Homo sapiens: one gene and its partners. The protein of the gene in region 1 interacts with the protein of each later gene in a pairwise test. Each region holds a gene or a part of one and is shown on either strand. Other genes may lie near its edges. The genes, in order: ZNF20, PECAM1, VWC2L, KRTAP9-2, MTCL2, TRIM23 and VWCE.

Region 1 (4,371 bases):
GCACCACTGTCCTCCAGACTCTGTCTCCAAAAAAAAAAAATTCATATCTCACAAATCAAGGTATTTTCCATATGTCATCACACATAGTTAAGGTTTGGTCAGTCAGTGATTGCTTCTATGTCTGCTGGGACTGGGATTTTTACTCTAGGGAGACTGAAATAAGCTTTTGTGAAGAGAAGCACCCATGACACCTTAAAGGAAATGATCGGATTGTTCCATGCATGACTTTTCCACGATGTCATTAGCTTCATAATATTAGCATAAGAGGGTTCCTGACAAGTTTGCATCAACAGCATGTTACCAGAGAAAGAAAGACTTGATTGGAATAGTGATGCTGACTTTGTTCTTTACTGGGCAGGAAATTCAGTTTTCAAAAACATATTGGCCCCATAGGACTCAAGGTGATTTTTTTAAAAAAGTAGTAGCCAATTGTGGTGGCTCATGTCTGTAATCCCAGAACTTGGGGAGATGGAGACAGAAGAATCACATGATCCAGCAGTCAATGACCAGCCTGGGAAACAGGGAGACTCCATCTCTACAAAAAATAAATAAATAAAATCATAGTATATACCTTGATAAGAAGTGAATTTATAGATTTTAACTGAGGTATGTTATGGTTAACAATGTCCATAAATTGTAGGGAATATATCAGGGTTTAGAGAATAGTATGGTAAAAACTGGTCCAGAAGTCTGATGGCTGGCCTCCCCTCGCCAGAAGGCCGAGTCTTTTGCCCCTGAACAGGCACATGTCATACACCTGCAATGTGAGATGATGCTCTTCAGTGACCATGATGGATCAATACAAAAATAACTAATTCTTGGCAGGGCACAGTGGCTCATGCCTGTAATCCCAGCACTTTGGGAGGCCGAGGCGGGTGGATCACGAAGTCAGGAGATCGAGACCATGGTGAAACCCTGTCTCTACTAAAAATACAAAAAATTAGCCAGGCGCGGTGGCGGGCACCTGTAGTCCCAGTTACTTGGGAGGTTGAGGCAGGAGAATGGCGTGAACCAGGAAGCGGAGCTTGCAATGAGCCGAGATCGAGTCACTGCACTCCAGCCTGGGCGACAGAGCAAGACTCCGTCTCAAAAAAAAAAAAATTAAAATAAAAAAAAACCTCATTCTTTAACCATGTCTTGAAATGTGACAGAAGAAAACACTTTAAATTGCAAACATACCCCAAATTTTTCTCTTCTCACGAAATGTGACTATCTTTTAATATCTCACACATCTCACAGTCATCTATGGCTTTTGGTCATATTCATTACCACAGTATATTATTACACCCTCTTTGACGACACTTATGCCACTGGTGGTCTTTGGTCAGAAGTCACTCATAAGAACATGAGATCACCTTTGGTATTTAGAATAGATGAAAATTCATGATCCAGATAAAAACTAAGAATATAAGCATGAAAAGTAAAATCTACATGAGGAAAAATATGCCTGACATCCACATGGCAACACTGACTCACAGTGACCACCGGATAACATGGTAACATTATCAACTTGATCTAATACATGATGTTAATGGGAGGTTGTAATGTAGCTTCTTCATTAAAAAATAATAATTGTTAGTATGCAGTTGTTATAAACAGTTAATAAGCTTATTTCTAAAATACATGAACAGAAGTATTTGTTGCCAAGAAACCGCATTAGTGTTTTTAGTCAGGTATACTCATACAAAGTTAAAAACGAAGTGAGACATTACATTCAGTTGTGAATAACAGCAAATGCTTGAAATTTCCTGATAAGAGCAAGGTGGCTCTTCTCACATAAAAGCCCTTGGTGAGACCAATCACTGCACAATGCAGCAGAGGAACAAGCTCCCATCTAGTTGGTTTAATCAAGAACAGGCTCGCTAATCCGTAGAAACAACAATGCTTGCAATACAAAGTAGACCTCTTAAACCAACTCAATCTATAGAAGAGTTGGGCATCAGTGAGTATTTCCAGCCATAACAACATTTATTAGTTCTCTGGTAAACATTTTAACATTTCTGAAGAAACAGCAAAGTGGGCATGTATCTTTAATGTGGAGCACTGGGGACATATCTGGAGACCTACAACTCTGAGGAACAGAGACAAGTGATTTGGGGGATATTCTCGATTAACAAGCCAAAGAATCAGGAAAATGGGCTGGAAGCGGGTAGCCACACACCTCTCTCCCTGTGTGGGGCCTCTAATATGTGACTGATGCCTTCCTTTTCTGTGCCTTTGAAATCTCATGCAAGATTGGCTATAGGTGAATTGTATTACGAAACCATCCAAGTTCTTCTAGATTTTATTGTCCTATCGCAAGTCTCTCTTCTCAATTCAAAAAGCAGTTATCCAGAGGTTCTTTCACCACTCTCTTTTCTTGTGTTTCAAAGGAAGTGGGACAACAGAAAGCTTCTCCCGTTGCTTCCACTAAAAGGATTTCTCATCTATTAATGGTATGAGTTCTTTCATGTTCTCGACATGAACTGGCACGAATAAAGGCTTTGCCACATTGCTTGCATTGATAGGGTTTCTCTCCAGTGTGAGTCCTTTCATGATATCGAATGTAATTGGAAATAAAGGCCTTACCACAGTGCTTACATTCATAGGGTTTCTCTCCAGTGTGAGTCCTTTCATGATATCGAATGGAACTGGAACAAGTGAAGGCTTTGCCACATACCTTACACTCATATGGCTTATCTCCAGTGTGTGTCCTTTCATGTATATGCAAGGAAGAGAAATACCTGAATGCTTTTCCACATTGCTTACATTCATGGGGCTTCTCTCCAGTGTGCGTCCTTTCATGTATACGCAAGGAAGAAAAATACTTGAATACTTTTCCACATTCCTTACATTCATGGGGTTTCTCTCCACTGTGCGTCCTTTCATGAATTTGAAGTTGTGAAGCACATCTAAAGCCTTTCCCACACTGCTTACATCCATAGGGTTTATCCTCAGTGTGTGTCTTTTCATGCCTTTGAAGGTCCGAGGTACATCTGAAGGCTTTACCACATTGCCTACATTCATAGGGTTTCTCTCCAGTGTGAGTCCTTCCATGCTTTTGAAGGTGTGAGCCACATCTAAAGGCTTTCCCACACTGCTTACATTCATAGGGTTTCTCTCCAGTGTGAGTCATCTTATGATACTGAATGGAACTGAAAGAAATGAAGACTTTCCCACATTGCTTACACTCATAGGGTTTTTCTCCAGTGTGAGACCTTTTATGTCTACGAATTTCACTAGGAAAACTGAATGCATTCCCACATTCTTTACATTCATCGGCATTCACTCCTGTGTGAGTTCTTTCATGTACTGGAAGGGTAGTGGAACGAGTAAAGGCCTTACCACATTGTTTACACTTATATGGTTTCACACCAGTGTGAATTCGTTCATGGATAAGACATAAATTGAGAAAATAGAAGGCTTTCCCACAAAACTTACATTTATAAGGTCCATCTCCACTGTGCATTACCCTGTGTCTTTGAATGCATGAATGGGAAATGAAGGTTTCTGTACATTCTTTACCATCATAGGGTTTCTCTTTAGTGCAAGCTTTATCATGTGATTGAAAGGAGTCAAGATAACTGAAGGCTTTCTTACATTCCTTATTTCTATATGGATTCTCTCCATATTCCTGATACTCAGATGACTTGTGTCCAGTGTCAGCTCTGATATGCGTATTAAGAGATGAATGACCCGTGCCAACTTCTCCACACACACTGCTTTCACATGGTGTTATTCCAGGAAGAGTTTTCCTGTTCAGCATGTCATCTGCAATCTGGTTGAAGCTTTCTCCACAGTGATGACTTTCTTTACTTTCACAGAGTTTCTCTCTCATAAGACTTCAGTGAAAAATGAGAAGCACATTATTAACGGTTTGATTAAAAGTGACTTATAGGGCCGGGCACAGTGGCTCACTCCTGTAATCCCAGCACTTTGGGAGGCTGAGGTGGGCAGATCACCTGAGGTCAGGAGTTTGAGACCATCCTGGCCAACATGGTGAAACCCCGTCTCTACTAAAAATGCAAAAATTAGCTGGGCGTGGTGGCAGGTGCCTGTAATCCCAGCTACTCGGGAGCCTGAGTTGGGAGAATCGCCTGAACCCCAGAGGCAGAGGTTGCAGTGAGCTGAGATTGCGCCATTGTGCTCTAGCCTGGGTGACAAGGGCGAAACTCTGTCTCAAAAAAAAATAAAAAAATAAAAAAGTGATCTATATTGGCTGGGTATGGTGGGTCACGCCTGTAATCCCAGCACCATGGGAGGTTGAGGCGGGCAGATGGCTTGAGGCCAGGAGTTTGAGATCAGCCTGGCCAACATGGCGAAACCCTGTCTCTACTAAAAATACAAAAATTGGCTAGGTGTGACGGCGTGCGCTTGTAATCCCAACTACTT
Region 2 (4,620 bases), on another chromosome or scaffold:
AGCTACTTAGTAGGCTGAGGCAGGAGAATCGCTTGAGCCCGGGATGCAGAGGTTGCAGTGAGCTGAGATCGCGCCATTGCACTCCAGCCTGGGCAACAAGAGCGAAACTCCATCTAAAAAAAATTAAATAAGTATAAAAAAGAGAAAAAGTAATTGATCTGTAGGGGATTTGGAAAAAAATGTACTGAAAGTCCATGACCATAAAACCAGGTGTTTTTCCCAAATCCCTACACGTCCCCCCAGAAATTTCTACCATGCCCATTCTCAAGGAAGCTACCTATCCAGCATTTGGACCTGGGATTGAAAGTGACTATGTCTGGTATGCTTTCTTAGCCCCCCATCTATCTCCATGAAGTATGAATAATGCAATCATGGAATTTTTTAAAATTTTTGAGTGAATGGAGCAGTCCAATGTTTAAAACTCTCAAAGACAGATGACATGATATGTAAAAACCTCAAAGAGTCTGCAGACAAATTATTAGAAATAAATGTGAGTTTAGAAAGGTGGCTGGATAAGGCCAGGAATGGCAGCTCACACCTGTAATCCCAGCACTGTGGGAGGCCAGGAGTTCGAGATCAGCCTGGCTAACATGGTGAAACCCCGTCTCTACCAAAAATACAAAAATTAGCCAGGCATTGTGGCATGCACCTGTAATCCCAGCTACTTGGGAGGCTGAGGCAGGGGAATCACTTGAACCTGGGAGGCACAGGTTGCAGTAAGTTGAGATCACAACACTGCACTGGGCGACAGAATAAGACTCTGTCTGCAAAAACACAAACAAACAAACGAAAAAGAAAGGTGGCTGGATATAAGATTAATATTTTACAAGTCAGCATAGTGGTCATCTCTGGAGGGAGGGGCTATGGGGTAGGGAGAAGCACAGATGCAAGCTATTAAATGGTCTTTTGGGATGTTGGTCTGGGATGTTGATGAGATATTGTCCCTAATTTCACAAAGTGTTCCAACAGCACCAGGAAACACTGTGTTTATGCTGAACAACTGATTCATTTCTATCTTGTGGATTCTGAGAATGTTCTAATGGACCTTGTTCCTCTTTTTGCTTTGATTGTTAACACACAGCAAAAATTTCACCTCTGCTTCTAGCAATCTTTGGGATGCGTTTGTGCTAAATGGGCCATAGCTTTATTTCCCTGCCTTTATTTTTCTCTCATCCTGATTTCCTCATTAATTGTATCTCATTGAACAATACATAATTTTTATAAGTGGTCCCAAGTCATTTTTTTGGAATAAGAAAAAAGTTAGTTAGCTAGCTGGCCAGAGATACTGGCAGAACCTGTCCTTTCCCTCTCTTTTAACAAAGTTAGGCCTTTGTTGGGTAATTTAAAATTTAATCTTCAATTTTAAAACGAGTACTACAATTTGCGCCTGCTGCTATATTCTGAGCAATTAATTTAACAACAACAACGACAACAAAAATGGTGTCTGACCAGTCCATGAGATGAAACAAGGTGACGGTTTAAATTCAAGTCATTTCCCACAGCATTACTCTTTGGAACTCCCTTTTTTGTCTTTATATGCAACTTACAAGCTCCTGATTTAAGAAGCCTGCTGGATGAGCTCTCGACACACAACTTTCTTTGGACCAGCCGGGCACGGTGGTTTATGCCTGTAATCCCAGCACTTTGGGAGGCCGAGGCGGGTGGATCACTTGAGGTCAGGAGTTCAAGACCAGCCTGGCCAACATGGTGAAACCTCATCTCTACTAAAAATACAAAATTAGCCGGGTGTGGTGGTGGGCGCCTGTAATCCCAGCTACTTGGGAGACTGAGGCAGGAGAACTGCTTGAACCTGGGAGGCAGAGGTTGCAGTGAGCCAAGGTCATGCCATTGCACTCCAGCCTGGGAAATAAGAGCAAAACTCCATCTCAAAAAAACCTTTTTTTCCTTTGGACCATATTAATTTCTCTGCACTCCTCAATTAATATAGTTCCCTCCCAACCACTCTCTTCCCTCTCAGAGACAGTTAGGTCTCCTTCCATTACCTCTTCAGTACTTCCTCCTTCATTTTAAGCTATGCTGTGTATTCCAGTGACTCAACCAGGAGATACTAAAGAGCAGAAATCAAGTGCACGGAGCCAGACCTGGGCCAAATCTCATCTCTGCTACTAACAAAGCTGTGTGACCTTTGGCAAGTCCCTAAATTTCTCTGAGCCTCAGTTTGCTTATCCATACAATAGGCACAAGGAATGTAAGTATAAATGAGAACCTGAGTTTAATTACTTAAAGTAGAGTTCCTGGCACCTATAAAGTGCTTGAGAAATGTTAGCTAGATTCTTCCAGTTACAGAAATAAAGTCGACTCTTTTTTTATTTTTTAATTTTAATTTTTTAGAGATGGGGTCTTACTATGTTGTCCAGGCTATTCTTAAACGCCTGGCCTCAAGCAATCATCCCGCCTCAGCCTCCCCAAGTGCTGGGATTACAGGCATGAGCTGAAAATCAACTATTCAGAGCTTTAAAGCTGTGTCTCCACTACATGTTTCTAGGGATTTTTTTTTTTTTCAAATAAAAACCATATTTAAGGCTGGGCGTGGTGGCTCATGCCTGTAATCCCAGAACTTTGGGAGGCTGAGCTGGGCAGATCACTTGAGGTCAGGAGTTCGAGACCAGCCTCCTGGCTAACATGGTGAAACCCCATCTCTATTAAAGATACAAAAACTAGCCAGGCGTGGTGGCAGTTGCCTGTAATCCCATCTACTCGGGAGGCTGAGGCAGAAGAATCACTTGAACCTGGGAGGTGGATATTGCAGTGAGCCGAGATTGCACCACTGCACTCCAGCCTGGGCAACAAAGATAGACTCCATCTCAAAAAAAATAAACAAAATAAAAAGCATATTAAACATTTTCAGGTTAATTTAAAGCGACTTCTCCAGCCTCCCAGTTTTGCTCACTCCACTGCGTGCTCTCCACACGAGTCATTCATCTGCTCTCCTGTTTACTGAACGAGCTGCCCATCCCTGGCTGGTTATGCCCTAGACCAGCAGACAGTGCTGGGTACAGAAGGGAGTCAGACATACCAGATTCAAACCCGTGATCCCACAGTGCTTAGCTGGGTGATCTCGGGAGTTATTTAACCTCTCTGGGCCACCACGTCTCTGCCTACGAAGTAGGAACATGAATACCTGCCTTCTCTGGTATCTTTAACCTAAACAGTGACTGCGCCAAAGTGGCTGAGGGCACAGAAGGGGCCGTGTATATATTGCCCAGTGCCTGGCCTCTGGTTGACATTCTCTGCCTTCTTCCTTAGCACCATTCATAGCAAACATTTAAGGGGGTTTTTCTGTGCCAAGCACTGTCCCCCATACTGGGGGTTCAGAGAACAGTGAGGCTGGCAGTGTCTGCCCTTGGAGAGCTCATTCTGCACTCCACAACTCTTCCTACTCTGGGCCTTCCAGCCTCAGCACAACCCTTGCGTGAGCCTCCCACTAACCAGTCCTAGTTCATTTGATTTTTATAAAAGCCCTCCCTTTTTAAAAAACAATTTTAAAGCAAATTTGGCTAATGCACCAAGCAGTGGTTTTTCCAGTAGGGATGGTACCCACTAGCATGGGGCCCGTCCACCATCTTGTTTTTCTAAGCAACTCTAACACACATTATCTGCTCAAATAAACAAACTCGGCAGGGTGTGGCGGCTCACACCTGTAATCCCAGCTCTTTGGGAGGCCTAGGTCGGTGGATCACCTGAGGTCAAGAGTTCGAGACCCGCTGGCCAACATGGTGAAACCTAGCCTTTACTAAAAATACAAAAATTAGCCGGGCATGGTAGCGGGCACTTGTCATCCCAGCTACTCAGGAGGCTGAGGCAGGAGAATCACTTGAATCCAGGAGGTAGAGGTTGCAGTGAGCCAAGATCACATCATTGCACTCCAGCCTGAGCAATAGAGCAAAAACTCCATCTCAGAAAATAAATAAATTAACAATAAACGAACTCAATGGATGCACTGGCAGGAACACCACATTCCCATGGCTAGCTCGAACAGACAAGGGAGAAGAGAGGGCAGGATGGAAAAAAGAAAAGCATTTTATAAACTCTGTTGAGATATGAGTCTCAGCTCTTCATCTTAACACAAATATCATCGACAAAACAACAAAAACAGTGACCTAGTTTTTACCGCCACAACCACCACCACCTCCCTTGCTATAGAAGCCCTTCAAGATGCCCCCCCCAATGGTCCTTGCCCTCTGCTCATCACACTTACACGTGGTCACCTCCCACGTTAACATTAACCAACAAAATACTCCATCAGGTAATAAAAGACAATGCAGCTTTTATCCTGATCACTCTCTCTCCTGTCTGGGATCCCTCATTCTGGGGAATGCCAGCAGTCATAGCATAAGCAGCCCTGTGGAAGGTACCCAGGATGAGGAACTAAGGCCTCCAGCCCATAGCCACAGGAGTGAGCTTGGAAGCAGATTCCCCAGACTCAGTCAAGCCTTCAGATAACCGCAACCCTGACCAACAATTTATCTGCAATCTAATGAGACCCGGTGCCAGCACCACCCAACTCAGCCACTCCTGCATTCCTGACCCTCAGAAACTTCAGGATAATAAATCTGTGTTATCTTAAGCCAGTAAGTTTTAGGTAAATTGTTATGCAGC
Region 3 (4,620 bases), on another chromosome or scaffold:
AATTCTCTTGTATTATTTATTATTTCAAATTTTCTTTCTCTTAATCACTATGGAATAGTTATGTTGTTTTTGTTATCAACTTTATTTCAAAAATCCAGACTCACATTCACTTAAACAGGTAACTGATGTTGACGCCATTGTTGTTCTTTAATTATGGGCATAAATAAGTAGGAAATCCTTTATAGTAGCTCCTTCCTAAATATAATTTATATTCAACTGTTGGTTTATTCCCTTTCCTTTAGAATTAGATTTTTTTCTCACTAATCTCTTGAGTTGACACAGATAATTATAACATATGTTCCATCACTGACTAGTCCAGTTTAAAGAATAATAGAAAATGTGAGTTCAAATATTCTTGAGCTATTTGTAAGTTACTCCTTGGATCACATTTTGGGGCTCAGTAAAACCATTTCTTTGCAATTTAGATAAAGCCAGACCTATGAAATTCAGAAGGAAAATTCAAGCTGAAGGTTCCTATATAAAATAATCCAAAAGGACAAATTTTAATGCATATATTGCCAAGTATCAACTCTCCAAACCTCACAATAAGGCACAGATAGTTGCATGAACTTAGTCTATTTGAGGACTTAGTATCTTCAAATTGATCCCAAACAGTTTAAGAGCGTGGGCTTAAATGAATCTATCTTCACTTTATATATGTCAAATTATTCTTTTTAAATATTTATTTTCAGCCTACCCCTCTTGTATTCCCATGGAAGGAGCTGAGTATATTTAATATTAGGAGCACATCCAGAAGTCTTTGAAGAGGGGGATGGCTCTTCATATTCATGAAGCTTGCATACTTCTGTTGGTCATCCCTGGATTGGTCACCTCTGCTGCTATCAGTCATGAAGACTATCCTGCTGATGAAGGTGACCAGATCTCCAGTAATGACAATCTGATCTTTGATGACTATCGAGGGAAAGGGTGTGTCGATGACAGCGGCTTTGTATACAAGTTGGGAGAACGATTTTTCCCTGGGCATTCCAACTGTCCATGTGTCTGTGCTCTAGATGGACCTGTTTGCGACCAACCAGAATGCCCTAAAATTCACCCAAAGTGTACTAAAGTGGAACACAATGGATGCTGTCCTGAGTGCAAAGAAGTAAAAAACTTCTGTGAATATCACGGGAAAAATTACAAAATCTTGGAGGAATTTAAGGTATGCGTTACCCTCCATATTTATTGAAATATCAACTTTTCATACCACGTGCTTAGTACATTGCTACATTAAAGTCAGAGTTGGAAAAATGTACTTTAAAATTTCCCTTTAAATTATACAATTTGATTCTAATTACCATAAGTAGCACCATGGTCAACAAATGGCCAACTGGTTTGTTGATCATATTTGTTAAGTTGCACAATAACCTTTATTTTTTTTCCCAGAAGTATTTGGGGCATACCTAACACCTTTTATTTTTGCCCTTAAACATTTCTTCTCTGTTATTACAAAATATGTTTTCTGATGGGAACAATTTTGTGTATAGTGTATGTGTCTCCTAAATTAATTTTTTAATTGTGTCAGTTTTGTGTGTTGCTTATTAGCCTGTATTTGAAGTCATTTAACAATATAGTCTAGAATTATTTGTTTATTGTGTGGAAAAGCTACAGAGATATACTTCTTAGCTGTGGTCCTCATATTAAGAAAATGCATTGGGCCTACTTGTGGTCAAGCAAGATCCCCATTCTGTTCTCTGCTCGCTGGATTTTTTGCTTTCAGGATTCCACAGAGAACTGAATTTTTATCACAATCCATGTAAAGAGTAGTAAAAAAGACTGTAATTTTTTTCAGCCTACCTGGTATTTTTTAGTTTTTCTTTTACGCTTGCGTCATATTTTCAAAGTAGCTTAGAGTTCATTTTTATCCCTTATTGAACTTTCTTTTCCCCAATGGCTAGTTTTAATTGGGATATCCTACAAGCCTGATCTGAACCCTGAAGGTATGAATACATGAAAAATGTCCACCTTAAATGTAATGGCAGTTTGTGCCTGGAGTGTCTGTCATACTGATGGCTTTATATAAAATGTTCCCATTTCATCTAACCAAGTTCTGTGATGAGGTGCTCAGAACCTTAGAGGTAAAAGCAGATATAGCTAGTTTTCAGTGTGGGTGTTTATGTATGAGAGAAGACATTTCCATTATTAGCACTGACCCAACTTCTCTCACCACAAGGGTCAAATGGTGCCAGAAATCAGTATGTAGAAAAAAGGTCTCAACTGATCATCATTAGCATAATCTGTGTATTCATAGTTAATTGTATTTAGTTCATTATTAACCTGGAATGAACCAGGTTAGCGGTTCAAGCCAGTTCTGATTTACCCAAGAATACCCAGTCATTGGAACTAGATTCCTTAGGACAAAAGGGAAATTTTAATTGTGACATTCAACTTCCTTAGACATGTTATTCTCGACTTTTGTCTTTCGTGTATTATTTTATTGCACAAAATTAAGAAGTAAAAGCATGAGAGTCTAGTAAAAGTATCATTGTTGACACCAAATAATAGTTGAGAGTAGAGTACATTTATTAATGGTTTTATGATCTCTAAAATATTGTATATATTTTGACATTACCTATTTTTAATGTCATCTTAATGGAAGTAAGTAGAAGTACTCAACACACTTGATTCTAGCAGTCATATCACCCTTTTCTAACCTGCATTTATATCTAGACTAGAATACAAAAGGGTATTGTAGGAACAGCGTTTCATAACTAGCACAAATAAAAACATAAGTTTCTGAGATTTATATAATTTGGTAATCTGTATTTAATAAAGAAAATATTGTCTAACTTAACTCACTATTGAAAATGCTATAGTTTTCCCTCTATTTATTAGATTTTACTACAAAGATAATAACTATGTTACCATGTCAAACAATATAGAGGTATTTAAAGAAAAAGTTAATAATTTCTGTACCCCTTCTCGTTATAACCCTACTATAATCTAATTAATCCCTACTACTTCTTTCCTAATGTATGATCCATTAATATGCACAGCTTTTTCACCTGGCTTTTTGTGTCATAAAATTTTTGATGTGATTTTTAAAATAATAGATATCACTTTTTTTAACAAGAATTTAGAGTCATAAAGAGTTTTAGAGACTATATAGGGCAAATGTGTCAGAATGAGAAACTGAGACCAAAAAAGTATAAATTACTTATCCAAAATTGTCAAGTTATTTATCTTAATTCTAAATGCTGCCATTCTAACATACTATATGATCTCTCAAAGCAGTTTGTCACTAAGGTCAGATAGACTTGGATTCGAATCCCAAATTCATCACTTGGATATAAATTTTTGAATGGAGTTCTTAAACTTTTTGATCCATAGTGGTATTGACCATAAAATAGCCATTGTAATAATCACTTTCCTTAGGAGGAGAGGTTGGAAATTCTTAATAACATATAATTTCTCTGAAGTCACTAACCTTGTGATGACGGGTACACAATAGGTATTAAATAAATGATTGTCCCCTCCTTCTTAACTCTAATATCCAGGGATTTACTCTAAATTCTAAATTCCTCTATGGCTTTGCCTACATTTTATAATGAAAGTTCAACTTTAAAAGACTTTCAAATGAAGAATTCTCATACCTTTTTAAAATGCTCTACTTATCCCTATGAACCATACAACTCTAAGTAAATATTAGCCATAATCTGTCATCTTGATTCTCTTCCAACTCAGCTTGCAAGGAACAAGTCATTAATTATTAAAGATGCATAAAACTTTCATATAATAATGTTGATATGTCAATTAGGGAGGTTGTATTATGAGATAATCTTCACATAAATATATTCATCCAACAAGCATTTATCAGACCGTTCAGTAGATAAGATACTGTAGACGTACTTACAATTGAAAGTAGGATATCTAGAAACCAAAATCTCTGCTCACAAGAAAGACATGATCGATGTGAAGAGAGAAGGGGGAAAAAGCAGGTAAAAGTTAAGTATATGATTATGAAATCCCAATATAACTCCCAAGAGATTGTGATGGCAGAAGCTTATCAAAATAGTATGAGGCTTGGTTAAGCAAGAGATTTGTCTTCAGGATGCTAACCCTATACATCTTGTAGAGCTGCCTGTTCTTCAAGAAGTACTTGAAATTGATCTGGGAAGACTGAAATTCCAAAGACGAAACTGCCAGAGCAAAATCAGAGATTGGGATGAATACAGTCTGCAAAGAGGAGGGAGATGGGTATAATTGGAAGCTAGATATGACTAAAATGCTATCCTAGTAAGAGGCAAATTCAGATATGTGTCGGTGGAGAGTGGATGGAAGGGCCTTGAATACTGGGCCAAAATATTTAGATTCATCTGAAGAATAATAGGAAATAAAATGCGGATTGTTCTGTACATAGATGACCTAGTTAAACATAAATAAAAATGAATGTCCTATATCCAAGCACAGAATTGAATAGAAGTAAAGAGAAATTAATAGTGGAGGAAGGAAGTCTGTTGCAGAAAAAAAGAGAATGAGGTGCACAAGCACAAAGACATTCAGGACAGTTTTCAGGGTAAAATCTAATTTCCCTGCTGTAGCCTAGATTCTACTCATCAACCTCTCCAAATCCCTCAAACTCTTGGTGGCTTTTTTTCCCTGTGTGTTTGCACTGCTGTT
Region 4 (3,797 bases), on another chromosome or scaffold:
CTCAAGCATCTTTTTGATGCGGATGAATTGAATGATTGGCTGGTCAGAGGCTGAGACAAAAAGATCCCTGCATTCAGGGCAGCCATTAAATGCAATCCCTGCTGCCATGTCATGCAGCTGTTGCTCACTGAGGTGTGGGAAAAAATAATTTGGGATTTTTTTGTGAATAAAAATATTATTTGCAAATATGAGAGATTATTTCTCTCATTGTTAAATAAACTCAAGTGCATGTCTTGCTAGTGCTGACTTCCAATGTCATTTCTACTATGTTGAGAGTTAAATGTAAGTGTCCTTGGGCAGAAAGAGAGGACCTCAGCTTGGATCAGAATCTGTCCTTTATTAGCTACATAACATCACATATTAATTTTTTTTCAGGTGAAAAATGAAGGTAATAATGCATGACCACCTGTTTTGAGAATCAAATTGGATAATAACTATGGTATGTGATATGTGTGTAAATCCCATATCAGGAGTGCTTTCAAATAAAACAAAACACTATATGAGATGAGGATGGTTCAGAATTTATTCAGAAACATATAGGTAAGGATTTCTGCTACCAGGGACACAACACAAATTTATCATGAAAAGAAGAAAGAAGGATACAAGAACGATGAGGAGGATATTGAAAACAAAAAAAAGATTGCAAAGATCATCGATCAGTTGCAGAAACCTAAATTCCTTAGAAGCAGGGAATGAAGCTCTTGACTTTAGAGTCAAAGCTGAGACCATGACTCAAACTTGAGAACAGATGAAGCTGGCACATGATCCACAAGGTGTAAGGAAAAAGAGAATCAGGATGAAGTATTCTGCCCTCCCTCAAGCAGATTTCCAAGATTTTAAACATGTAGAGAATTCATAAAAATTTGGGTGAGAGCATGGTGGCTGTCAGCAGCAAATTAAATTAGTCCCCCAAAAGATGAGTCAGTTGAGCAGAAATTTGTTGTGTGAGGATGGTGGTTCTCTTGGAACGTGATCAGCAGCAAGAAGGCTGGCAGCAGCTGGACACACAGGTGGGCTGGAAGCAAGTGGTCCTGCAGCAGGTGGTCTCACAGCAGGCTGGGCGGCAGCAGGGCTGGCAGCAGTTGGAGCCACAGCTCTGGTTTAGGCAACCAGGCAGGCAGACAGTCGTGGGGTAGTAGCAGGTTCTTCTGCAGTACACAGGTGCACAGGAGCTGCTCTGGCCACAGCTGGACCCACAGCTGGTTTGGCCACAGCAGCTGGACCCACAGCAGGTGGGCTGGCAGCAGGGTGTGCTGCAGCAGGAAGGCTGGCAGCAGCTGGTCACACAGGTGGGCTGGCAGCAGGTGGTCCTACAGCAGGTGTTTTGACAGCAAGTTGGGCGGCAGCAAGGCTGGCAGCAGCTGGACACACAGCAGGCGGGCTGGCAGCAGGGTGTGCTGCTGCAGGTGGTCACAGTGGTGGGCTTCCAGCAGGTGGTCCTGCAGCAGGTGGTCCTGCAGCAGGTAGGCTGACAGCAAGGGGAGCAACAGTGGGTCATGGTGTCAGGGGTGGAGGGTGGGCTTCTGTTCAGAGGTGAGTTTCCCAGAATCTGATGACCCCTTGCAATCTGGACCTTTTATACATCTGGCCTCCAAAGTTTCCACCAATCAGCAGGACTTTTCCTTGTTGTTGTTTACACTGTTTTCCATACTCCCTTTGCGATTGTCAAAGGGGAAGTTGTTTCTGAAATCTTATGAATCTTTTGAAAGTAAGGGTTTAATCTGTTTCTTAATTGAGAATTACTCATAAAAACTTTGTTTCAGATAAAAGGAAGGCAGTCTCATCACCAGCATCATTCCTGCTCTGACCATCATCTGGTCATGTGATAGTTCCTGGTGATCCGGGAAGCAGATAGTTCTCTCTGTCCAGCCTCATGGTTGACTGTATGTAGACTGGGAAATGTCTGTGGGCAGTCGCGTGATGCTGTTATGTTCACAGTGATGCATTGAATCCGTGCCCGGCACCAAGCCTATTTACCCACAAAAGTCTGATTCAAGAGTAACAAGCATCTTTCTCGCTACAAACTATTCCACCTGTGTCTTCCAGTTCTATTACACTCACTAGGGAAAGGGTGTTTGGCACAATGTATTCCAAAATGCAGAGCTAGACCAAAGCAGGTGGGTAGAAAAAGGAGTCCACTGGGATTCAGAAAGCATCGAGTGTCTCTGTGATGGTGTTGCCATTTACCCTGATTTGCCTGGGACTGAAGGGTTTACCAGCATGGGACTCTCTGTGACGTAAGTGCTCTAGATTCGGGCAAATCAAGCTGAGTTCTGGTCCTAGCTTGTTAATTCTAATACTTTTTGTATTTTTTTTTGGTGTGACAGAAAATTGCACATGTGCAGTCATGACTCATAAAAAATAGTAATAGTTTTCTTCGCTTTATAAGAGTATTTTTAATCTTGCTTTTTTTTTGGCCCTTGTCCAGGGGTAGACCCTCCAGGGCAATGTCTAATAGAATGGTGTAGTGTATATCTTTTTATATTCGTTGGATAGAAAGGAGAACTCTCAGTATTTCACAATTAATTACGATGCTTTCTGTCTTTTTTGTAGATTCATTTCATCATAGCAACAGGTCTTGTTCTATTCCTTATTTTCTGAGAGACAGAAAACTGAAAATGTACTGAAATTTACAAAATGCTTTTTCTTTATAAGCTGAAATAATGTTATGATTATTCTACCTTTTCAGTAAGTGTTGTTTTATTCTATGTTTTTTGAGACAGAGTCTTGCTTCGTCACCCAGGCTGGAGTGCAGTGGTACAATCTTGGCTCACTGCAATCTCCACCTCCCGGGTTCAAGAGATTCTCTTGCCTCAGCCTCCTGAGTAGCTGGGACTATGGGAGCACACCACCATGCCCAGCTAACTTTTGTATTTTTAATAGAGACAGAGTTTCACCATGTTGGCCAGCTGATCGCAAACTCCTGACCTCAAGAGATCCACCTGCCTCGGCTTCCCAAAATGTGTTATTTTAAAAGTTGATTAATGTTCAAATATTAGCCCAGTCTTGCATTTCTGAAAACAATTCATGTGGTTACGATCATATGTATATGCCATTGGATTTTATTTACTTATATTTTGTTTAGGATATTTACTATCATTGCATTCCAAAAATATATTCTCCTATTCTTACTCTATTTCCTCTACCTTCTCTAAGTAAAGAAATTCCGAATATAGCAAAATTCCTACCCTTCTGTGCCCAATTTGACCTTGATGTGACCCCCTGTATTGGTTTTTCTAAAGGCAATTTCATGCCCCATGAAATACTCTAGCAGTTCTATTGCAGAGTGTGGGCTTGGGGATCAACAGTTCTTTTTTCAACAGGGGCACTAGACTATCCCATGGGTCCCTTTCAAACACACACACCCCATGGGGGGAACTCCCAGGAGATACTTGTAGCCCAGTTGTAGTCTTTCTTATCTACTTTGACAGAAACAATGAAGTCTAGCCCAATTATCTGAAATCTGTACTTAGTCATTTCTACAACAATATTGTGTTAATCTAGAAAACGTGAGTGAGGAATTGTCTTTAATCTGCAACTCAAATTATAGGAGGAGGAAATTACATCAGCATATGTAGGTATCAGTTAAATTCATTGAGGAGAACCTGGGGGAAAGTGTGATTGGTGGATCCCAAATAACGAGACAGTGGTATCAGATTATCACTTGATTAACAAACACATAAAACATGAGAGCCCATGCAGCTCTCTAACAACAGGCCTATTGCACTGAGTTTTACATGTAGATTTTTGAAGAGAGTGGAAAGTAAACACTGAGTTTCCTGAGAATATAAGTAGAC
Region 5 (4,416 bases), on another chromosome or scaffold:
CCCCCCCCACCCACCACCACACACACGCCCATTGCAAAGTGCTGGGGCTGCTGCTGGCAGGCTGCTTACAGAGAAGACAGTGTGGCTTAAGGGTGGCACCGGGGGGTTGCTGGGGCAGGGTGAGCCCAGTGAGAAGGGCTGGCAGGGCTGGTGCCTCCTGATGCATTGGAGGAAGAGGCTTTTTTTTGTGTGTGTGAGAAAACACAAAATAAATAAACACAGAACCAGGACACCACCACATTTGAGAGCAAATATCAGAGTTGGGAAACCACAGACGCGGACAGGAAGGCTTCCCTGGTAGGAAGCAGGGGGACAAGAAGCCAGTTACTGAGGTTACGGGAAAATCCGCACGAGGCAGCAGTGCTGGGAAGAACATCCTGGGAGGACTGAGGGCTGAATACTATAGTGAGCTCCGGACCCAGAAGAGGAAAACCTGGCATGGACCAGGGCCACTCCATTTGCTGGCAGGAACCAGCCAAGGAGAAGAGGAGGCAGGAGGACAAGAGGCTTTGGAGGGAGATGATAAAGAAAGAATGGGTGAGTGGTGGGAAGCAGACTGAGCCCAGAGAAAGGAAGGGGCTAAACCAAGATTACAGAAAGTCAAAGCAGTGTCTCATTCACTACTGGGGATGCAAGACCTGTTAGGAGTCAGGAAACCTGGGTTCTGGTCTTGGCTCTGCCTCTGGTTTGCGATGTGACCTTGGGTGAGCCACTGCCTTCTCTGGGCCTGATTCCTCATCTCAAAAAATGAGGGGGCTGGACACAAAAGGACAAATACTATATGATTCTACTTAAAAGAGATACCTAGAATAGGCCAATCCACAGAGAAAAAAAAAAAGTAGAATAGAGGTTACCAGGGACTGGGGACAGGGGGAGTGGGGAGTTACTGTTTAGTGGGTACAGAGTTTCAGTTTAGGATGATGAAAAAGTTCTGGAGGTGGCAGTTACACATTGCAAATGTACTTCGAGACACTTAGAAATCTTTAAAATGGTAAATTTAATGTTATGCACATTTTGCCATCATTCTTTTAAAAAGGAAGGGGTTTAGACCAAATTATGTTATGGCCTCCTTGCTATTCATGAAGACTAGTGAAGGGGGTGAGGAGAGTATTGTCCCCCACCCCAGGGCCAGGGCACTGAAAGGCTGGGCTGGGGACACTGAGTGTGATCAGATCACTTTCCATTTGTGTAGAACCTTACACTTTTCCAAGGAGACTCGCAGGCACAGTGTTGCAGTTGGTCCTCACCACAGTTACATGGGGTGGGACATTATCCTCACTTTACAGATGGGGAAACTGAGGTATAGACTAGAAACATGATCTCGCCAAGGTCAATCACGTTGGTGGATTATTTATTTTTTTAAATAGTCACCTGGAAAACATCCTTGCATCTTAGGTTCACCCGTTGACTCACCAACTGGCTCAGTGGCCCTTGATGAAAGGATACATGCTATAAATTAGTAGAAGAGTTCGTCTCCTGGGGCCAACATGCTTGCTTCCCATAATTGGATGATAAAAATTATAAATCCTGATGTGTTTCTCTTTTTACCAATGGCTGTCAGGAAACTCAAGAGTAAAACTTAATTGCATGATTATGGGAATTACACCAGTTAGATTTACAGAATAATTTCTCTTGCTTTTTTACTTCTTATTTTTATTTTACTGAACCCCTATGATTAAGATTGTAAATAGCCTCTGATGCTTTTTGAAAATCCTGAGTAATTAAATCAGTTTGGTTGAGGACTCGATCCCTTAAGTCCCTGCTCAGTGCTCTTTTTAAGATACAGCATCATGTTTATTGGTTAAAAGAAAGATGAGGCTGGATGCCGTGGCTCACGCCTATAATCCCAGTACTTTGGGAGGCCGAGGTGGGTGGATCACCTGAGGTCAGGAGTTCAAGACCAGCCTGGCCAACATGGTGAAACCCCGTCTCTACTAAAAATAAAAAAATTAGTCGGGTGTGGTGGCACACACCTGTAATCCCAGTTACTCGGGAGGTTGAGGCAGGAGAACTGCTTGAACCTGGGAGGTGGAGGCTGCGGTGAGCTGAAATGGCGCCACTGTACTCCAGCCTGAATGACAGAGCAAGACTCTGTCTCCAAAAAAAAAAGAAAAAGGAAGATGACCTGGCACGGTGGCTGATGCCTGCCTGTAACCCCAGCACTTTGGGAGGCTGAGGAGGGCAGATCACTTGAGCCCAGGAGTTTGAAACCAGCCTGGGCAACATAGGGAGACCCCCTGTCTCTAAAAATAATAATAATAAATAATAAATAAATAAATAAATAAAATAAAAAATAAATCTAAAAAAACTTAAAAAAAGAAAGATAGCCTAATAATCAGGGCCACGAACACCAATGGTGTGGCCAATAGTGCCTAAGATCCCCCGGGGAGGGCTGGTTTTATTTTTTATTTTTTTTGAGACAAGTCTCATTCCGTTGCCCAGGCTAGAGCGCAATGGCACAATCTCGGCTCACTGCAACCGCTGCTCCCCACCAGGTTCAAGTGATTCTCCTGCCTCAGCCTCCCAAGTAGCTGGGATTACAGGCATGTGCCACCACACCTGGCTAATTTTTGCATTTTTAGTAGAGACAGGGTTTCACCATATTGGCCAGGCTCGAACTCCTGAGCTCAAGTGATCCACCCGCCTCAGCCTCCCAAAGTGCTGGGATTACAGGTGTGACCACTGCACCCACCCCTCAACCCCAGGAGAGTTTGTTAAACATGCAAATTCAAGGTGGGGCCCAGGAATCTACATTCTGAACATGCCCTCAGAGAATTCTGCTGAATGGGGACCTCAGATCACCCTCTGGAATACACAAGGCTCAGTGATCTAGAATGGACTTGTTTTATGCCTGGGTTGGCCAGCAGCATATTCTGGGTATTCTGGACCCACCAAAAGCCCCCAGCAGGGCAGCGGATTTGCACAGCAAACAGGACAGAGTTGGACCCAAGTTCTCATCTAAACTCAGTGACTTCTCATGCTCTGGGATGAGACCTGTACCTCAGTTTCCTCACAGCAAAATGGGCGCACTAACCCATGTCCTGCCAAGGCTGCCTCCCAGAGTTGTCCCTGAGAGGTCTGAAGGAGATGTGGGGTGGGAAACGATTTCTTTTTTGAGATTGGGTCTCACTCTGTCATCCAGGCTGGAGTGCAGTGGCGCAATCTCTGCTCCTGCAACCTCCGCCTCCTGGGCTCAAGCGATTCTCCCACCTCAGCCTCCCGAGTAGCTGGGATTACAGGCACGCACCACCATGCTCAGCTAATTTTTTGTACTTTTAGTACAGACAGGGATTCACCACGTTGGCCAGGCTGGCGTTGAACTCCTGACCTCAACTGATCCGCTCGCCTCAGCCTCCCAAAGAGCTGGGATTTCAGGCGTGAGCCACCATGCCCGGCCAGGGGAAACGTTTTCTATATAGTAAAGTGCTTTAGGCGGGATGTGCAGGGGATGATGATAACCATTGTTATTACTATTATTATGGAAGAAGTAGTGGGAGCTTGGGGGGTCTGGTGAGGCTAGAAGCAGGGGACATTCTAGATAGGAGGGGAGAGGGAGAAAGAGCCTGGACGCTGGGTGGGCCAGAGGAGAAGAGGCTGGGTGATGAAACCATAAAAGTGCATGCGGGTGGACATGATGGAACCATGTCAGCAAGGGTGTAAGAGGGTCAAGTCTTTGGGCCCTTGGCCTTGTCACATCGGAAGCCAACCGGTAGAAGAGTGCACCTGGGGACACCTAGAGGTGGGACCCATCTTGAGTTCATAGAAAGCAAGACCTCTTAGAGGTCAGCCTTTGGTGGGAAATAAACTGGGGGAAAGGGCTGGCACAGGGTCAGAGGATTGGATTCTGATGTCTCGTGTGTGCAGGCCTAAGAGCCACTGATGCACCAAAATGACTTGATTTGCATTCCAATGAAGTCATCATTCCAAAAGGGGCTGATTTGGCTCTGGAAAGAGGTGAGACATAAGAAACATGAGGTTTCCCAGTTTAGGGCCATCATGCCAACTGGTCCCCCATTTCCGCCAACCAACTGATGCCAACCCCATGGACCCAAGCCAAGTGGTCTATGGGGGATTGAGCCCCGAGGGTTCCTTGGGACTTTGGTTGAAGAGAGAGTGGAGATGGGGAAAACAGAAAGAAGGATAAAGGAGGAGAAGAAGGGAATAGCAGTAAAAGGCAGAGAGGCAGGAGGAAGGGGGAGAACGGGTTCGAGAAGGGCAGCATTCCTTCTTGGGACCCCAATTCTCCAGGGAATCCCCACTGTGGGTCAGGCAGTTTTCTGCTTTGGGAATGTTACCAAGACTTAAAAGGCATTTGAAGAAACCAACAAACTTAGAAATCACATTCCAAAAGAGTAGAGAATTTTTACAAACCAATCCCCCCACCCCAAAAAAGAAAACAACCAGTTACCAAGTAAA
Region 6 (4,620 bases), on another chromosome or scaffold:
TTAAAACCATGTTTCTTAGCATTTCAAAGTCTTCCAGCCTAAAATTATAGGTACTCTTGCTTCCTTTTTTGGTGGATAAATTATTTTGAATGTGTTCCACTTGAAAAATAGTATGAATATATTAAAACTGTCTTAGATAGTGCAACTGACCTGGAAAAAAAATGGCAACCTTAAACTCTTTTGGAGAAAACTCCCTTATCAAAAAGAGTAAACTTACAGAACTTACGTTTGTAAAATAACTGTTCAAATGTTAGTAAATGCTATTATTTCCAAATCTGGTATCTGAAAATAACTTAGTTTGAAATACGTAAAGAAAAGTTTTAAAAGTATACAGAAAACTGCAAAAAAAAGCCACAAACCCTTCAAACTCATTTTAACAGAAAATAAAGAGTAATTATCACAAGCTACAAACACTTCTGTCCTTGATATTAGTAAATAAAAACATGGTGAGACTCAAATGACTTATCTGTATTTTCATTATTGGCTTATTTATTTGTAAAGAAAACATTGTTCTATTGGGTTTATGGCTTCAGGCAAATGATTCACTCTGTGATACACATTCTTATTTATTTGAATCAGGGTAGCACGTTTTTCTCAGGTGTCTTAAAGCTCTTTACAGATAAGTATTGAATATAAACATCTCAGAAGATAAAATAAAATTAGTAACTAAGAGTGAGATAGTTTATAGCTTGAAGATTATTGACCTTAATAGAAACTTAGGCTTTCTGAAACTTTCTGGGAATTTTATCATTCTAAAAATCAAGTGGAAGGACATTGTTTCCTATGACATTTGCATTACATGAACAATTTTCAATCTTAAATCCATACAAATACTTTTCCTACCTAGGTCTGTTACTTGTCGATCAAATGGGCAACGGATTGCTCTTCCATGAAGAGGTAGGCGAGTGAGACAGTCATGACAGACGGTATGGCCACAAAGCAAAAGACGGGGAACTTTGTCTCCTTGCAAAGAAAAGACATCTTCACAAACTCCACACTCTAGCACCTAATATTTGAAAAGGAAGGATGTGCTCTTTAAACAATTTTAAAAGCATACATATTTTAGGTATATAAGAAAATTCACCTAATATATTGAATCAACATTGTTACTTTATTCCTCTATGAAAAAAAAACTATGTAGGTTGTAAAATCTTGAATCACTTTTAAGTCATTCCATTTGACCGACCCTGTCAAAATTATATCATAATGAAATATCTTTGAAATACTAAGTGTTGGGGCAAAGATGCTGTAAATTAACATCTTTGTTATCTTTTGAAAATTATGATTTCAGTCATTACATCTGAATCTGTACAAACAATATGTAATTCTACTGAAGGTGGGTTCTTAAGCAATTTCTCTGCAACTACCTAACCCATCATTAATTTCAACACAAATAAACTATCATTAATTTCAACAAAAATAATCTAAAATATGTACTGAGATAACAATTACCCCTGCAAATGATAAAGAACTTGTTAAGAAAAGACTGCAAGTAACTTTCAAGTATCTTCTACTATCTAATGTACATTAAATAATACAAAGGCAAAAAAAGCAATCATCTTAAATTTCAATTCCTGTTCTCTATCAATAAATATAGCTCTGAATTAGAAACTAGTTTGTCTTTCTAGCTCTAGTTACAGACACATGACTTGCACAAGGCTACACAGTCAGTCAAAAGAAAGGCCATTTATCAGCATATTCTGATTCTCAAGTCCATAAGTTTATGTTTTACAAATAGTCAACAAATTGTATTTATAGCAATAAAGCATTTTCAGCACTTATTTCTAAGTATATTTGTAGTGTTTCATACCTTGCATTAATTTTTTAAAAATACCCACACTGTACTATTCAATCATACCTCAAACTCCTGTCATTCAAGACCTGCTACAATCTGGTCCCTGTCCTATTGCTTCACTGCCATACTCTTCTGACCCTATGCTCCAACTATATCCAACAGCTTATAGTTCTCAGAACATGAGAAACTGTTTCATGTCTCTTCATGCTAACACTGAGGAAAGGACTATACTTGTCCTTTGGGCCCCGATGTACTCTGTATAAGCGTCTACCGTAACACCCAAAACACTTTAATACCTTGGTCTTTTAGCCCGTCTTTCCCTGTTGGACCAAAGAACCCTCAGGAACTGGGTATTTTAAATACCAAGTACCTACTGCTTACATAAAGTCCAGTAAAATAATTTAAAAACAATTAAGCTCACCATCATCAAACACACAACACGAGGTAAAAAACAGAAAACCCAAGGCAGAAATCAGACTAAATCTACTATGATTTTAAACCTAACTCTACAATTAACTTGGACTTAGTGCTTGAGATGCAAATATCTTTCACCATACAGTGATAATTCATAATTGCTTTGCATCTTATCATGGTTCAAAAGAAATTTAAATTTAGTCCTTCAATGTAAATAAGGGTTTGGGAAGATAAAAATGAATAAAAATAAGAAACATAACATTGTTCAGAGAAAAGAAGATGAAAATTCTTTACGTGAAAAGATGTTCAATCTAACTCATAATAAGAAAAATGCAAATTAAAGCTAGGCATGGTGGTTCATGCCTGTAATCCCAACACTTTGGGAGGCCGAGGCGAGTGGATCATCTGAGGTCAGGAGTTCGAGACCAGCCTGGACAACATGGTGAAATCCCATCTCTACTAAAAATACAAAAAAATTAGCCAGGCATAGTGGTGGGCGCCTGTAAGCCCAGTTTACTCAGGAGGCTGAGGCAGGATAATTGCTTGAGCCTGGGAGGCGGAGGTTGCAGTGAGCCAAGATCACGCCACCGCACTCCAGCCTAGGTGACAGAATGACACTCGGTCTCAAAAAAATAAAGAAAGAAAAATGCAAATTAAAGCTACATCAAAATACTTTTTTCAGATTAGATCAAAAATGTTGGTAACATTTTGTTAGTGAAGGTGTGGGAAAGCAGACACTCTCATACATTACTAATTGCTATGAAATGTTTATTGAGCAATACAGCTTCTATGGAGGGCAACTTGACAATACTTACCAAATTTAAATAACTCAGTAATTCTAGTTGCAGGAATTTATCCTACAAGCATACTAGACACGTGTGACAAAATCTGTATGTTACTCCTTAAAGCATCATTTGCATTAGCAAAAAATTGGAAAGAAAGTAAATATACATCAATATCAGCTTGGAAAATAAATTGTGGCACATTCATAATACTATAAAACTATATAGGATAGTGAGAAAGATGAAGTTTTTCATATATACACAGAATGATTTCATATGATTAAAACAAAAAGAAAAATAATAGAATATATTCATTTTTGCATAAAGGTGGGGAAAGAGCAAATTTTTTTTGTATTGTTGTATAAGCGTATTGTCTTCCTGGAAGGATACATAGGACACCAGTAACATTGGAACACTGGTTCCCCATGAAAAAGGCAAACAACTGGGGAACAGCTATCCACGTATAATTCTGTCTATTATTCATATATACACATACTTCAATTTATCCTACATTTTTTAAAAAGGGGAAAGTTTCACGTTATCAAATTCTTTAGGCCAGGCACTGTGGCTCACACCTGTAATCACAGCACTTTGGGACACCAAGGCAAGAGGACTGCTTGAGGCCAGGAGTTCAAGACCAGCCTGGGCAACACAGCGAGACCCTGTCTCTACAAAAAAAAATCAAAAACTGAGGTGGGAGGATCATTTGAGCCCAGGAGGTCGAGGTTGCTATGAGCCATGATCGTGCCATTGCACTCCCACCTGGGTGACAGAGTGAGAACCTGCCTCAAAAAAAAAAAATTCAATTAAATATAGAAAAAATATTCATAGGCTGGGTGCGGTGGCTCACGCCTGTAATCTCAGCACTTTGGGAGGCCAAGGCGGGCAGATCACGAGGTCAGGAGATTGAGACCATCCTGGCTAACGTGGTGAAATCCCATCTCTACCAAAAATACAAAAAATTAGCCAGGCGCGGTGGCGGGCACCTGTAGTCCCAGCTACTCGGGAGGCTGAGGCAGGAGAATGGTATGAACCTAAGAGGCGGAGCTTGCAGTGAGCCAAGATTGTGCCACTGCCCTCCAGCCTGGGCGACAGAGTGAGGCTCTGTCTCAAAAATTCACAATAGAATTTGATATAAAATAAATGCAACATTTTATAAATGCTGTATTATGATACTCTAATAAAGTAAATTTATGACAATAAACTCCAAAGAACCATATTAAAATTGTTTAGTTCATTTCAATCCTGTATCTCTGATCCCATCACTATACAAAGATTTAAAAGAACTTCCTTATGCTGTTAATGTATTTTTCAAAAAGCACTAATAAAATTCCATTGATTAGCAAACCAAACACAGGTCCAAAAATAAAGTTACTAGACTATTTTGCATCAACTCGGTAAATAATACAGCAAGAAAATATTTCCTCAGTATCTATAAATAGGAATTGTGGTTAACAGCAAAAAACCCTAGATAGGAAAAAGCTCTTAATTTTACACTTCAAAAAATGCCAAAAAAGCTTCAAACTTATTACTTGTAAATCAAACTGTAATCAATCAGATATTTTATTTTATGTTGTTATTTATTATTATTATTATTTTTTTTTTGAGAAAGGGTCTCACTCTGTCAGC
Region 7 (5,255 bases), on another chromosome or scaffold:
CCTCAGAGTTGAAGAAAGGCTGTGCAATAGATGAGGAGCCCCAGGGGTGGCTGCCTCAGGACCTTTGCACTTGCAGTTCCTGCTATAAGAAAGGTTCTTATGGCTGGGTGTGGTGGCTCACGCCTGTAATCCCAGCACTTTGGGAAGCCGAAGCAGGCTGATCATTTTGAGCCCAGGAGTTTGAGACCAGCCTGGGCAACATGGTGAAACCTCGTTTCTACTAAAAACACAAAAACTAGCTGGGCATGGTGACACACACCTGTAGGGTCAGCTACTCGGGAGGCTGAGGTGGGAGAATGGCTTGAGCCTGTGAGGCAGAGGTTGCAGCGAGCCAAGTTGGCGCCACTGCCCTTCAGCCTAAGTGACAGAGCCAGACCGTCTCAAAACAAAAAAAAAAAAAAGAGAGAGAGAAAGATTCTTCCTCAGACACACACTGGGCTTCCTCTCTCCCTTCACCCAGATCTCTGCCCATGGCACCTTCTCAGAGAGGCCTTCCTTGTCCACCCTTACCTTGCTTTATTCTCCACAACATTTACTTCCTGTGACATTAGATTTTAATTTATTAATTCATTGTCTCCCCTACAACTCCCTGATGACAAGGGTTTCTTATCTATTTACCCCAGCACGTACAGGAGTGCCTGGCATGTAGTAGGTGCTCAATAAATGGCTGTTGAGGGAAAGGTTGAGAAGGGCAATGGCATAGGTGACATCTCTTGGGTGGGTGTGGGGTCATGAATGAGCTGCCCAAAACTGGAGGCAGTAGGGGTCTGTTCAAGCAGGAATGAGGTCCAGAAAGGGCAGGAAGCCAGATGCATCCAACTGGTGCTGGGTGCTGAGTAAGGCGTGACCATACAGCCATAAACAAACTACTGCCCCCACCTTCAAGGAAAGTAGGGCAGACCAGGAGCTAGGTGATAACAGCATAGAGTGACAAATGCCACAGTGGGACAGACTGTGGAGCCCTGAGGAGGGTCAGGGGGGGTTCCTGGAAGGGCAGCATCTAGGCTGAGGTGAGAGAGAAAACTTTGGGAGGCCAAGGCAGGCAGATAACTTGAGGTCAGGAGTTTGAGACCAGCCTGGCCAACATGGCAAAACCCTGTCTCCACTAAAAAAAAAATACAGGCCGGGCGCGGTGGCTCACGCTTGTAATCCCAGCACTTTGGGAGGCCAAGGCGGGCGGATCACCCGAGGTCAGGAGTTTGAGACCAGCCTGACCAACATGGAGAAACCCCGACTCTACTAAAAATGCAAAATTAGCCGGGCATGGTGGCGCATGCCTGTAATCCCAGCTACTTGGGAGGGTGAGGTAGGAGAATTGCTTGAACCTGGGAGGCGGAGGTTGCGGTGAGCTGAGATCACGCCACTGCACTCCAGCCTGGGCAACAAGAGCAAAACTCCATCTCAAAAAAAAAAAAAAAAAAAAAAAAAATTAGCCAGGTGTGGTGGCATGTGCCTGTTGTCCCAGCTGCTCGAGAGGCTGAGGCATGAGAATCGCTTGAACCCAGAAGGCAGAGGCTGCAGTGAGCCGAGATCGCACCACTGCACTCCAGCCTGGGTGACAGAATAAGATTCTGTCTCAAAAAAAAAAAAAAAAAAAGTAGGGCAGCCAGCAAAAGAAGAGGAAGGGAGAGGGTGTTCTAGCAGGGGAAACAGCACAACTGCAGGCCTGGAGGGGGACAGAGAGGACAACTGCAACCAGCTCCAGTCATGGACTGGACAGAGGGTGATGAAATCCAGCCTGGTTTGAGCTTCCAACCCCACCGCAACAGAAAAGGGACAAGAAACCCCTTCCCAATGGTGTTCCACCAATGTTCAGAGCGGAGGGAAGATGATTCTGCGAGGCAGGCACTTTGTAAAGCACCCACTCTGCGCTGGGCACTGGGGACATGGGACAAGGCAAACTTAGCGTGTTCTTGGGGAGAAAAATCTGTGCCAAAATGTGACAAGTATTCCGGAAAGGGAAGCTCAGGGTGCAATGGCAGCACACAAAAGTCTGAGGAAAGCTGTCCCTGGGGCCTTTTTCCCTCTCTGAGGTCATCACAGAAGAAAGGGGGGGCCCTCCTGCTGGCGGGAGCTGGCAGTGAAGTCTCATCCACCCCCTTGCTGGAGTGATTATGGCAGCAGCCTGAGAAGGAGGGGACCGGGCGAATGAGCGGAGCCTTGGGACTCTCAGAAACGGACAGGCAGTGCCACCAAGGCGGCAGATAAAAGGGTGCCCAGGGAGGCTGATGGAGTCGAACTCTCAGGTGGGCAGGGACCGAGCACCCGCCAGAGCGCCCTAAGGAGCCTCCTAGGGCTGGTGACAGAGGGACAGGTGGTGGGAGCCTGTGGAACGCCGGGGAGTCGGGGCAGGTTCTGAGCAGGAACTGGCGGTGGCTGTGGAACACACGTGTGAGCTACAAGCCTGGCCGGGCCGCCCCCGCTGCGCGCCCCCCGGAGGACGTGGCCGCGGGCCAGGCCGCCTGCTGACACAGTGTTCCCTAGCTCCGAGCATCACGCACACACGCGCACGGCCCCACCGCGGCCCGGGGGAAAGCACGTGCGGAGGGCGGCATCCATCGCGAAAGACAGCGGAGGGGCATGCACCCCACCCCCACGCGCGCACACGCACGGACAGAAAACGAAAAGTGACCCAGAGACCCCGGCTGTTCCAAGGTCCATGAAGTTCGTAGGGCCAAGACCCAGGGAAAGCCCCGCGCGGCAGGGGAGGCCAGGCGCTGCCCGGGCAGAGCCACGGGCACGCTGGGGGGTGAGCCAGCCAGTCCGGAGACCAGATGGCACGTCCTGGGCTCCCCTCTCCAGAGGTCCGCGCTCCAGGGCACATTAGGAGTCACCCAACGCCTGGACCTCCGATCTCCCAGGTCCCAGTCTGGACAGCCCCAGCCAGGGGGGCACGATGAGCACCCGCCTAGAGGCACAAGTTGCTGACTCTTTGTGCCGTCCCCGAGCTGTGCCCGCGCTGATAGCACCCCAGAGGAAGCCCCGACACGCGGCTGCCTGCGGCTCCTGAGCGCCCCTCCGCGCCTCTCGACTGCACGCCGGTAGCGCTCTCCCGGGCGGGGGAGCGGGGAGGAGCTCCGGGCGCTTACCTCTCGGCCGCGAAGTGCCCGGGCGGCTTCCTCCCGGTGTAGCCTCGGGCTGGTGCCCCCGGCAGCAGGAGCGCGACACAGGCGGCCCGAAGGAGCAGTCCGGCCCACATGACCGGCGGCGGCGGGTCCCCCGGGCTGGGCTCGGCTCCTGCGCCGCGCGCGGGAGAGGGGGCTGCCGGCCCTCGCCCCTCCTCCTGGCGCCGTGGGGAGCGAACCAGCGATCCCCGAAATGGCACGCAGAGCTGAGCAGGGGGGCTTGGGACGCCGAGAGGAGGGGCCGAGGGCCGCGAGGGGACGCGGCGGACGATTGTGGGGAGGGTCTCTGGCACCTCGAAGCGAAACACACAAAGGCAACGCCGCCCGCCTGCTGATGCCTCTCCGAGAGGCGCGGAGCCCGGGGCGGGGGCAAAGATCAGGGACCCCTGGGGGCGGGGTTTCGCCCTCGGCCCACACCCCCTGCCCCGGTTTGGGAGTCGGCTTCCTGCGAAGCGCTGACTGAAGGCGTCAGACCGAGGCCCCGGGAGGAAACAGACTTCGGGAACAAGGCTAGCACCAGAGGCTGCGCGCCCCGGGCATGGCCCCTGTCGGTGGGACCCGAGACGCCTTGTTGTGACGAGGTGGGAACCGTGGAAATTCGAACCCACGACGCCAGGTCGCTGTGCCGCTGAGCAGTTCTAGGCCTGCCCCCAGCCTGCCAGAAGGTCTGCACCCTAACGCCGGAGTGCGTTGATCTGTGGGTCCAACCGCTCCCTGGCCTGGGGCCCTAGCCACTTTTGAAGCCCCGGGCTCCTCTGGGCACCCAGGGGGCAGATGGCCGGCCTCCCGACTGCTGGTGGCAAGACCAGGAAGCAGCTGGCGCCGTTGGCAGTGGAGAGGCAGCAGCAGATCTGGAAGGCTCCTCTTTGCCCCTTCTGCAGCTGCCCCAGGCCGTGGTCAGAGACTGGGGGGCTGCCTAGGGATTTAGGCAAAGAAGGGGTGCGGAAATCAAAATCATCCCGCTGGGAGAAAGCTGAAAGGATAACTGATTTTACCTTCTGCTCCATGCAGTAATCTTTCCCTTAGCCACCCACAATTAGTCAAGATTTTGCTTAAATACTTCCAGGGGTAAGAAACTCACTATCTGTTAAGAAGCGGCCCAATCCAGTTTTGAACCACATTTGTTTTAAAGTGTCTTCACTTCCCAGTTGAACAATCCCTGTTCCTTTGGCCTTCCTGCTACCTCTGCCTTTACTGAGGTGCTTAACATTGGTGGCCACAAATGGACATGGCGTACCAGCGGTGGCCTGGACTCGTGCCTCCTTCCTGCAGACACCATACTTTTACTAATGCACCCTAATATTACGTTTTTGGCAACCCCATGATGTTAATTATGACACATTGAGTTTGCAGTAAAGAAAAACCACAGGTGGCCGGGCGCGGTGGCTCACACCTGTAATCCCAGCACTTTGGGAGGCTGAGGTGGGCGGATCACCTGAGGTCAGGAGTTCCAGAACCAGCCTAGCCAATATGGTGACGCCCCATCTCTACTAAAAATACAAAAATTAGCTGGGCATGGTGGCGGGCGCCTGTATTCCCAGCTACTCAGGTTGAGGCAGGAGAATCACTTGAACCCAGGAGGCAGAGGTTGCAGTGAGCCAAGATTGCACCATTGCACTCCAGCCTGGGCGACAGAGCAAGGCTCCATCTCAAAAAAAAAAAAGAACGAAAAAAAGCAGGCATTTTTTGTTGTGCTTTTATGTTATTTAAACACAAGCTGCCAAGTGGTCTCCCTACCTGAAGCTGTGTGGCCCCATTTTTTTTTTTTTTTTTTTAGATGGAGTCTTTCTCTGTCGCCCAGGCTGGAATGCAGTGGCACGATTTCGGCTCACTGCAACCTCCATCTCCCGGGTTCAAGCAATTCCCCTTCCTCAGCCTCCCGAGTAGCTGGGACTACAGGCGCACATCACCATGCCCAGGTAATTTTTGTATTTTTAGTAGGGACGGGGTTTCACCATGTTGACCAGGCTGGTCTTGAACTCCTGACCTCAAATGATCCACCCACGTCAGCCTCCCAAAGTGCTGGGATTACAGGCGTGAGCCACCGCACCCGGCTTGTGGCTACATTTTTGCAGACATTCACCTTGAGGCCGTATCTCACCTTGTTTGTTTTGGCCCATTTTCTTGTCA

Evidence for each region.
Region 2: the proteins of ZNF20 (region 1) and PECAM1 interact in binary tests that used the Homo sapiens proteins (3 or more experiments, as listed by UniProt).
Region 3: the proteins of ZNF20 (region 1) and VWC2L interact in binary tests that used the Homo sapiens proteins (3 or more experiments, as listed by UniProt).
Region 4: the proteins of ZNF20 (region 1) and KRTAP9-2 interact in binary tests that used the Homo sapiens proteins (3 or more experiments, as listed by UniProt).
Region 5: the proteins of ZNF20 (region 1) and MTCL2 interact in binary tests that used the Homo sapiens proteins (3 or more experiments, as listed by UniProt).
Region 6: the proteins of ZNF20 (region 1) and TRIM23 interact in binary tests that used the Homo sapiens proteins (3 or more experiments, as listed by UniProt).
Region 7: the proteins of ZNF20 (region 1) and VWCE interact in binary tests that used the Homo sapiens proteins (3 or more experiments, as listed by UniProt).

The regions. Positions count from the first base shown.
Region 1 is NC_000019.10:12,130,165-12,134,535, forward strand, and holds the end of ZNF20 (zinc finger protein 20), read right to left. Parts: intron 3,822-4,371; coding exon 2,423-3,821; 3' UTR 1,186-2,422; downstream 1-1,185. UniProt on the Homo sapiens protein: May be involved in transcriptional regulation.
Region 2 is NC_000017.11:64,380,213-64,384,832, forward strand, and holds part of PECAM1 (platelet endothelial cell adhesion molecule precursor), read right to left. Parts: intron 1-4,620. UniProt on the Homo sapiens protein: Cell adhesion molecule which is required for leukocyte transendothelial migration (TEM) under most inflammatory conditions.
Region 3 is NC_000002.12:214,413,422-214,418,041, forward strand, and holds part of VWC2L (von Willebrand factor C domain-containing protein 2-like isoform 1 precursor), read left to right. Parts: intron 1-692; 5' UTR 693-772; coding exon 773-1,162; intron 1,163-4,620.
Region 4 is NC_000017.11:41,224,356-41,228,152, reverse strand, and holds KRTAP9-2 (keratin-associated protein 9-2), read right to left. Parts: upstream 1,506-3,797; 5' UTR 1,499-1,505; coding exon 974-1,498; 3' UTR 501-973; downstream 1-500. UniProt on the Homo sapiens protein: In the hair cortex, hair keratin intermediate filaments are embedded in an interfilamentous matrix, consisting of hair keratin-associated proteins (KRTAP), which are essential for the formation of a rigid and resistant hair shaft through their extensive disulfide bond cross-linking with abundant cysteine residues of hair keratins.
Region 5 is NC_000020.11:36,779,438-36,783,853, forward strand, and holds part of MTCL2 (microtubule cross-linking factor 2), read right to left. Parts: 3' UTR 1-4,416. UniProt on the Homo sapiens protein: Microtubule-associated factor that enables integration of the centrosomal and Golgi-associated microtubules on the Golgi membrane, supporting directional migration. Preferentially acts on the perinuclear microtubules accumulated around the Golgi.
Region 6 is NC_000005.10:65,617,250-65,621,869, forward strand, and holds part of TRIM23 (E3 ubiquitin-protein ligase TRIM23), read right to left. Parts: intron 1,007-4,620; coding exon 844-1,006; intron 1-843.
Region 7 is NC_000011.10:61,291,839-61,297,093, forward strand, and holds the start of VWCE (von Willebrand factor C and EGF domain-containing protein precursor), read right to left. Parts: upstream 3,479-5,255; 5' UTR 3,200-3,478; coding exon 3,090-3,199; intron 1-3,089.